Homo sapiens: one gene and its partner. The protein of the gene in region 1 purifies or fractionates together with the protein of each later gene. This does not show direct contact. Each region holds a gene or a part of one and is shown on either strand. Other genes may lie near its edges. The genes, in order: HEBP1 and SNX3.

The links.
Region 2: the proteins of HEBP1 (region 1) and SNX3 fractionate together in Homo sapiens (co-fractionation; one large-scale study listed by BioGRID). This does not show direct contact.

Annotation. Positions count from the first base shown.
Region 1 is NC_000012.12:12,979,657-12,983,481, reverse strand, and holds part of HEBP1 (heme-binding protein 1), read left to right. Parts: exon of another isoform or gene 1-138; intron 139-2,919; exon of another isoform or gene 2,920-3,482; intron 3,483-3,593; exon of another isoform or gene 3,594-3,645; intron 3,646-3,825.
Region 2 is NC_000006.12:108,213,105-108,216,088, reverse strand, and holds part of SNX3 (sorting nexin-3), read left to right. Parts: intron 1-1,466; coding exon 1,467-1,591; intron 1,592-2,984. UniProt on the Homo sapiens protein: Phosphoinositide-binding protein required for multivesicular body formation. Specifically binds phosphatidylinositol 3-phosphate (PtdIns(P3)).

The DNA of each region.
Region 1 (3,825 bases):
ACAAAATTAATTCTAAAATGAAAGCCTGGCGTCCTTCATTCAGTCTTCCTTCTTTATGACCTTGTGAAGAGATGTTTACAAAGGGATTATACATTTATTAGCATCGTTAATTACCGGTGCTTTTAGATGAATAGAATGCTGTGAAAAAAAATAGCACTATCAGAATATGTTTAGTATTCACAAGAGGCAATAGAATTATCCTCACACTTAGACCAGCAGCAACATTCCAGACTACTGTCCTTTCTCTATGCACTTAAGTTAGAGTTTGGCCTTTTCAGCTCATTTCAGCACCAGGTTCTCAATAGGGACCAACAGCAGGAGAAGTTTGATGGTCTTAATGAAACTTTCACGGTTTAAATGAAATGTCTAGATATAAAGGAAAAAGTTGGAAACCAGGAGTTTATTTTCAGGGTAACCTATGCTCCAACCCAGTTCATCATTCAGTGGCCATAGGACCTTTGGTATATTGCCAGCCTCACTGTACCTCAGTTTCCTCATCTGTAAGATGGGCATGAGTACCTAGCTTTTATGGTGTTGTGAGGATAAAATATGATAATACCTGTAAATACCTACTCAATCCTAGACATGAGGTAGACACTCAGTAAATGTTAGCCTATTCTCCTCCTCCTAACTTCACCTCCCTTTGAGAATTTGATCAAGTTTTATTAGAATTAACAATAAAAAAGTCAAAGTTACTGCAGATACACTTGGGTTAGAACCTCAGCTCCAATAATTATGAATTTTGTAACTTGCAGCAAGTTGTTTAATCTTTCTGAGCCTCAGTTTTCTCATCTATAAAATAAGATTTCTAAGGCATGATTGCAAAGGCCGGTTTCATTGTGCATTTGAAAGAACTTTGTCAGCTGTCAGCACCTAGGTTGCTGATGTCATTTTTCCCTCTAAATGACCAGGCCCCAATGGAGGCCATTGGCAGCTTGGGAAGTTCCGCCTAGAGAAAGAGAAGTTTGGAAGAAAGAGCTCAACTGCTAAACTCTTAGGGGGTTCCCACATTACCACTTAGGAGATTTACAGACCAGTGTTTGCCCATGTTCCTAGATAATTCAACCCTGTTTGTAACCACAGGAAGTTGGGACCAAGGGTTTTCAGTCTTAGCACCCTGCTTTGCCCCCTCACTTTGATTAAAAGGGGCCTTGTCCAGCCGTTCTATTGAAAATAGCACCCTGTCCTTTTCTGTCCTCTTATCCAGCTTTATTTTGCTTTGCTTCACTTATAATCAATTGCATTATATATCTCTATCTGCTCATTTATTTATTGCCCTCTCCCCACTAGAATGCAAGCTTCCCAAGGGCAGGGCCTTTGGCTAGAATATAACAAGTGTTCAATAAGAAGCTGTTGAATTGGCCATCACAGTGGCTGACATCTGTAATTCTAGTACTTTGGGAGGCCAAGGCAGGTGGATCACCTGAGCTTAGGAGTTCGAGACCAGCCTGGGCAACATAATGAGACCCCGTCTCTAAATAAAAAACAAAAACAAGTTGGTGAATGGATACATGAACAAAAGAGCTTCATCCTTGCCTCTCCTGTGCTTCTCTCTCTCTGCTCTGTCCCATAAAGATCTTGGTCCCCATCATAGCTTCAGCTGTCACCAGTGTGTTGGTAACTTTCCAGCCTAACCTCTGTCTGTCTCCCCTGAATGTCTTGCCATCCCATCAGACTCAGCATGGAGCCTGAGACAATGTGATTTACCCACTCGTTCATTCCTTCATTCAAAAGATAGTGGATTTCTTGTTCACTTACTCTGTACCAGGAACTATTTTAGGTGTCTAACAGTAAAATGGACGTCATGAGGTAATGTCCTTGCCCCTGGAAGAATTCAAGTGCCATCTGGATAGATGGGTGACACTTATGCCATGTGACATTTGCACTAGGTGGGAAGTTTGGTTTGATTTGACAAACATTTATTAAATATCTCTAATATTTAAGCCACCTCATGTCCAAAAGCCTTGCCAATGATAAGATTCTGTGTCTCAGCCTAATTAATCACCATTTTCTCTCCCCCTGATAGCTGTCAGTTATCCCGTAAGTCTTTTATAAACTCCCACCAGGCAAGGGCTTCAGGCTGTTTCTCTGTAGATGATGCCCGGGTCAACACGTCTCATGCTGCCTTCTCTCCTAAGCACCAGCCTTATATTTCCAGCTCCCAGGAGGCATCACCACCTCAAGTATCTCCCAAATCAGCATGTCCAAAACACAACGCAGATTTCCACGCAAAATCAGATCCCTTTCTGTGTTCTCTGTCTTAGTGATGGTCCCCTCCCTCCTCCTACCCACCCTGTTCCAATGTCATTCTGACTCCTTCACTTCTGCATCTAATTATTGGCTCATCCTGGTCAGCTCCCAGCTGTCCCTTCCTTCCCTTCCATCTACACAGGTCTTCATCATCTCTTGCACAAATGATTGCCATGGTATTGGCTTCCAGCTCTCCCATTTCTGACCCTTCTAAAGTGTCCTTTTATCACCACCTGCCTAAGGCACAGGACTGATCACATCGCCTGTCTTTGCTCAGAAACTGAGCCTCCCCAGAGGCTGCTCAGCTCTGGTTGGGGGCCTCAGGCCCATCCAACCAGATGTTGGGGTTTGAACAAAAGCCCAGTTAGTAATGAGATGCTTCATTTCCACTAGGAGAGGGTGGATCAACTTTGGGTGCCAAATGTTTGACCAGGCAGTAAAGCCTAGTAAAAATGCCCTGTGATGGCACTGACCACCCTCCACACATAGCACCACTCCCATGTCAACCTGATCTCAGAGCGTCCCACCCACCACCACCCAACATGCCTCCCACCCCAGACACAACATCCACTTCCAGACCTTTGCTCATATGTCCCCAGCTCCTCTCAACCCTCCACAGCCTCTGTTTGTTGGAAGCTCTGTGAGGACAGAAGGTTGTCATACTATTCATTGCCAGCATCAAGAAGAGATATTGTATTTCCAAACAAGGTCACATACACAAAAAAAGTAGAGATGCTCAATAAATGCTTAATATCACCTCTTTCTTAATACCTTCCCTTCATGTTCTAAGTCAGAACCCATCATTCGCTATTCCTCACCCCCAGAACATTCTGGATGTACCTTCCACCTTCATTCCAGCATTTCCTTCCAGCCAGCATAATCTTTGCATGTGTTTCTCTCCTGACCACACTTAGAGCTCTCGAGGGTAGAAAGACATCTTTATCATCCTTACAGCTCTTATGGTGTCTGGCTTGCATTTTGTGCTCAGTGATGTTCAACTCAATAAGCACAGGTCCAGCCTGGTTGAATGAAACGCTTATTGTGTGAAGCCTCTCTTCCTGTTGCAGTGAGGCTGTCAGTTCCTGGTCTGATACTTCTTTTGCCTAGCACAGGGCTGCATGCATAGCAGACCGTACACCAGTGTGTGCTGATCCATTGATGTTAAAGTTTCGAAGTTGAATGGTCAAGCTCAGAGTCATTCTTCCTCCCTGCATGCCTGCACCAGACACTCCCTAAAAAATAACACATTATGATTTTTTGCTTCCTTGGACGAAAGCCCCACTTCCCTCCACTAGCCTTCACTATTGCTTGTGTCATCTTTCCCCTTTCTAACTCTTCCAGACCTTTTGAGTCAGCTCCTGTTGTGTTTCTGGAATCAGGGGTGTGTGTATGTTTGAGATTCCTCAGTTCCCATGGTAACCAAATTCTTTATTCAGAATACTGAGCTCTGACATTGGGTGAGATAAAACACTGCCCTGGAGGAGAGCTTCTTTCAAGATGAGGCGTTTATAGATAAAGACGTATTCACAGGCTTACAAAGATAATGTATAGACTTCACGTTTCTTTCTTTTAGGG
Region 2 (2,984 bases), on another chromosome or scaffold:
GAAAAGAATGCACAAGAAAGCCCCCCAGTACAAAACTTATCTGATTCTCAGTAGTGCTAGGGTAGAGAAACCAAACTAACCTGTGAAATAGCTAGGTGCTATTTAATCAAAACAAGTATTTTGAGCTCCAGAATAACATTTTTAAAAATTTATTTTTTTTTTAAGACGGGGTCTCGCTGTCACCTAGGCTGGAGTGCAGCGACATTTTAGTTCACTCCAGTCCTGAACTCCTGGACTCAAGTGATCATCCCACTTCCGCCTCCTAAGTAGCTGGGACTACAGGCTCACACCACCACACCCAGCTAAGTTTTTTTTATTTTTGTAGACATGTGCCCAGGCTTGTGTCAAATTCCTGGCCTCAAGCAATCCTCCCGCCTGCCTTGGCCTCCCAAAGTGCAGGGATTGCAGATGTGAGCCACTGCACCTGGCCCAGAATAATATTTGAGCTCCAGATAATTCCCAGAAGGGAGAGATCAGCAGGAGTTGACCCTTGGTTAGGCTTTGAAGGGGAAAATTTGGGATCTTCCTATAGTGCGAGAAGGGAGAAATGACAGGTCTTTGGGAAAAGACAGCAGGATAGGGCATTTGGGAGAAAGTTGACTTGTTTCTTAATTTAGGAAACAGAATAGTGACAACTAGAGTTATTGGTATTTTGTCATCACCTCAAACACAAGTAGGAAAGACTGTATGCAGATGGTAAGAGGTTGAAGAAACCAGAAATCTTTTTTTTTTTTTTTTTCTAGACGGAGTCTCACTCTGTAGCCCAGCTGGAGTGCAGTGGCGTGATCTCCACTCACTGCAAGCTCTGCCTCCCGGGTTCATGCCATTCTCCTGCCTCAGCCTCCAGAGTAGTTGGGCCTACAGGCGCCCGCCACCACGCCCGGCTCATTTTTTGTATTTTTTAGTAGAGACAGGGTTTCACCGTGTTAGCCAGGATGGTCTCGATCTCCTGACCCTGTGATCTGCCCGCCTCGGCCTCCCAAAGTGCTGGGATTACAGGCATGAGCCACCACGCCCGGCTGAAACCAGAATTCTTACCTAACCATGTTGCAGAGAGAACATTAACGTTTCTTCATTTAATTGAGAGTTGATTTTGATCTCTGCAGTTTCCATTGCAATAAGGCATTGCCTTCTCCAAGTGGCATCACAAGTGTCTGAGGGGCATGGTAACCTTTATTTCAGTGTTGTGAGTGTTCTCTTTGTATACCTGGGCTTTGATAAGGCCAAGAAAAATGATATAAGCTATGGGCCCTGCCTTTGAATTAGGAGCTTTTGTCTGATGGGCTATTCTGCATTTGTCTAAACATTTGGTCTTTTTTCAGTGTATTTTTTGCTCTTTTATATTTCAACTAGTTTGACCGGACGATGGCTGTCATAGTGAGGACATGCTTTGTCTTCATGTTGTGCTCTATAAATTTTCACAACCCAGTCATCATGATCAAGGAGTTTCTGTCTTCACATTTTAGGTCGTAGTTCCCCCGCTCCCTGGGAAAGCGTTTTTGCGTCAGCTTCCTTTTAGAGGAGATGATGGAATATTTGATGACAATTTTATTGAGGAAAGAAAACAAGGGCTGGAGCAGTTTATAAACAAGTAAGTGCTTCCTATTCCTCAAAGTGTAGGACTACTTTAAGTGACTACTTGTAGTTTAGATGTTAAGCTAAACTGCACTGTTGCCTTTTCTTTCAGCCATTTCCTAACTTTTCATATCATTTAAACAAAGTAAAAGTATCTGACAAGTTGAATATCATGTGATAAATATTAACACATTTGAGTGATTGAAATGAGCATCTTTGTGTTGACCTACGTTTTGTATTTGTTTTTCTTGGTTAATTTATGCAAATTACATTTAAAATTACGGCATTTAAAAAATACAGTTTTACTTATGATTCTTTCTGATTTAAGGTATGTTCTAGCATGAACAATAAAACTTACAATGTACTTGCAATCATCTTGTTTGATTGCAGATGGAGGTATTAGCATGTCTTGTATAAAGGTGCATGTTTTTAATTTTCATGGTAAAATGTATTCTTTTGAAAATGTAAGAAGACTTAGGATTGTTTCTTTTTTACTTTAGAAACTCTTGATAAGCTCAAACCAATATTTTTAGCTTTTAATTTTATTCCCATTTGAAATATAGCTATTTTGTAAAATAATAGAAAGCCAGAGTGTTAGAAAGATTTATGCCAAGAAAGACCTCACTGTAATTGTGCATTGGCCTTAAACTAGCAAAAGTAAATCAAATCGTACAGAATATGGTAATGTGAGCTTACACTGTAAATTTTATCTAGTGATTTGAAGATCCATGAGTGGTAAACAGGAGAGAAAGGGTTACATAAAGCCCTTGGTTATCTACTGTAGCACTCAATATTCATTGTCTGTGAATCTGTTTTCCTTTTGGAGAAGGCAGTACTATATTAGATTTTTTTTTTTTTTTTTTTGAGACAGTCTTGCTCTGTCGCCCAGGCTGGAGTGCAGTGGTGCAGTCTCGGCTCAGTGAAACCTCCACCTCCCAGGTTCAAGTGATTCTCATGCCTCAGCCACCTGAGTAGTTGGGATTATAGTTGCGCACCATCGTGTCTGGCTTATTTTTGTATTTTTAGTAGAGACAGGGTTTCGCCATGTTGGCCAGGCTGGTCTCAAACTCCTGACCTCAAGTGATCTGCCTGCCTTGGTCTCCCAAAGTGCTGGGATTACAAGCATGAGCCACCACGCCTGGCCTATATTAGATATTTTTAAATTCTGAAATAATAGTCCGGTTGCCCAGTGTGGTTTTAAGCAGGCAAAAACAAACAAAATACCTGGATATTTGTGCCTGTTTTTTTAGTATTTTGGGCTTTTATTGAACTTCATTGTATTTCTAACTTCAATCCTGTATCTTCTCCTCTTTAAAATAGACTCTGGCCTGGTACAGTGGATCATGTCTGTAATCCCAATATTTTGGGAGGCCGAGGTGGGCAGATCACTTGAGGTCAGGAGTTCCAAG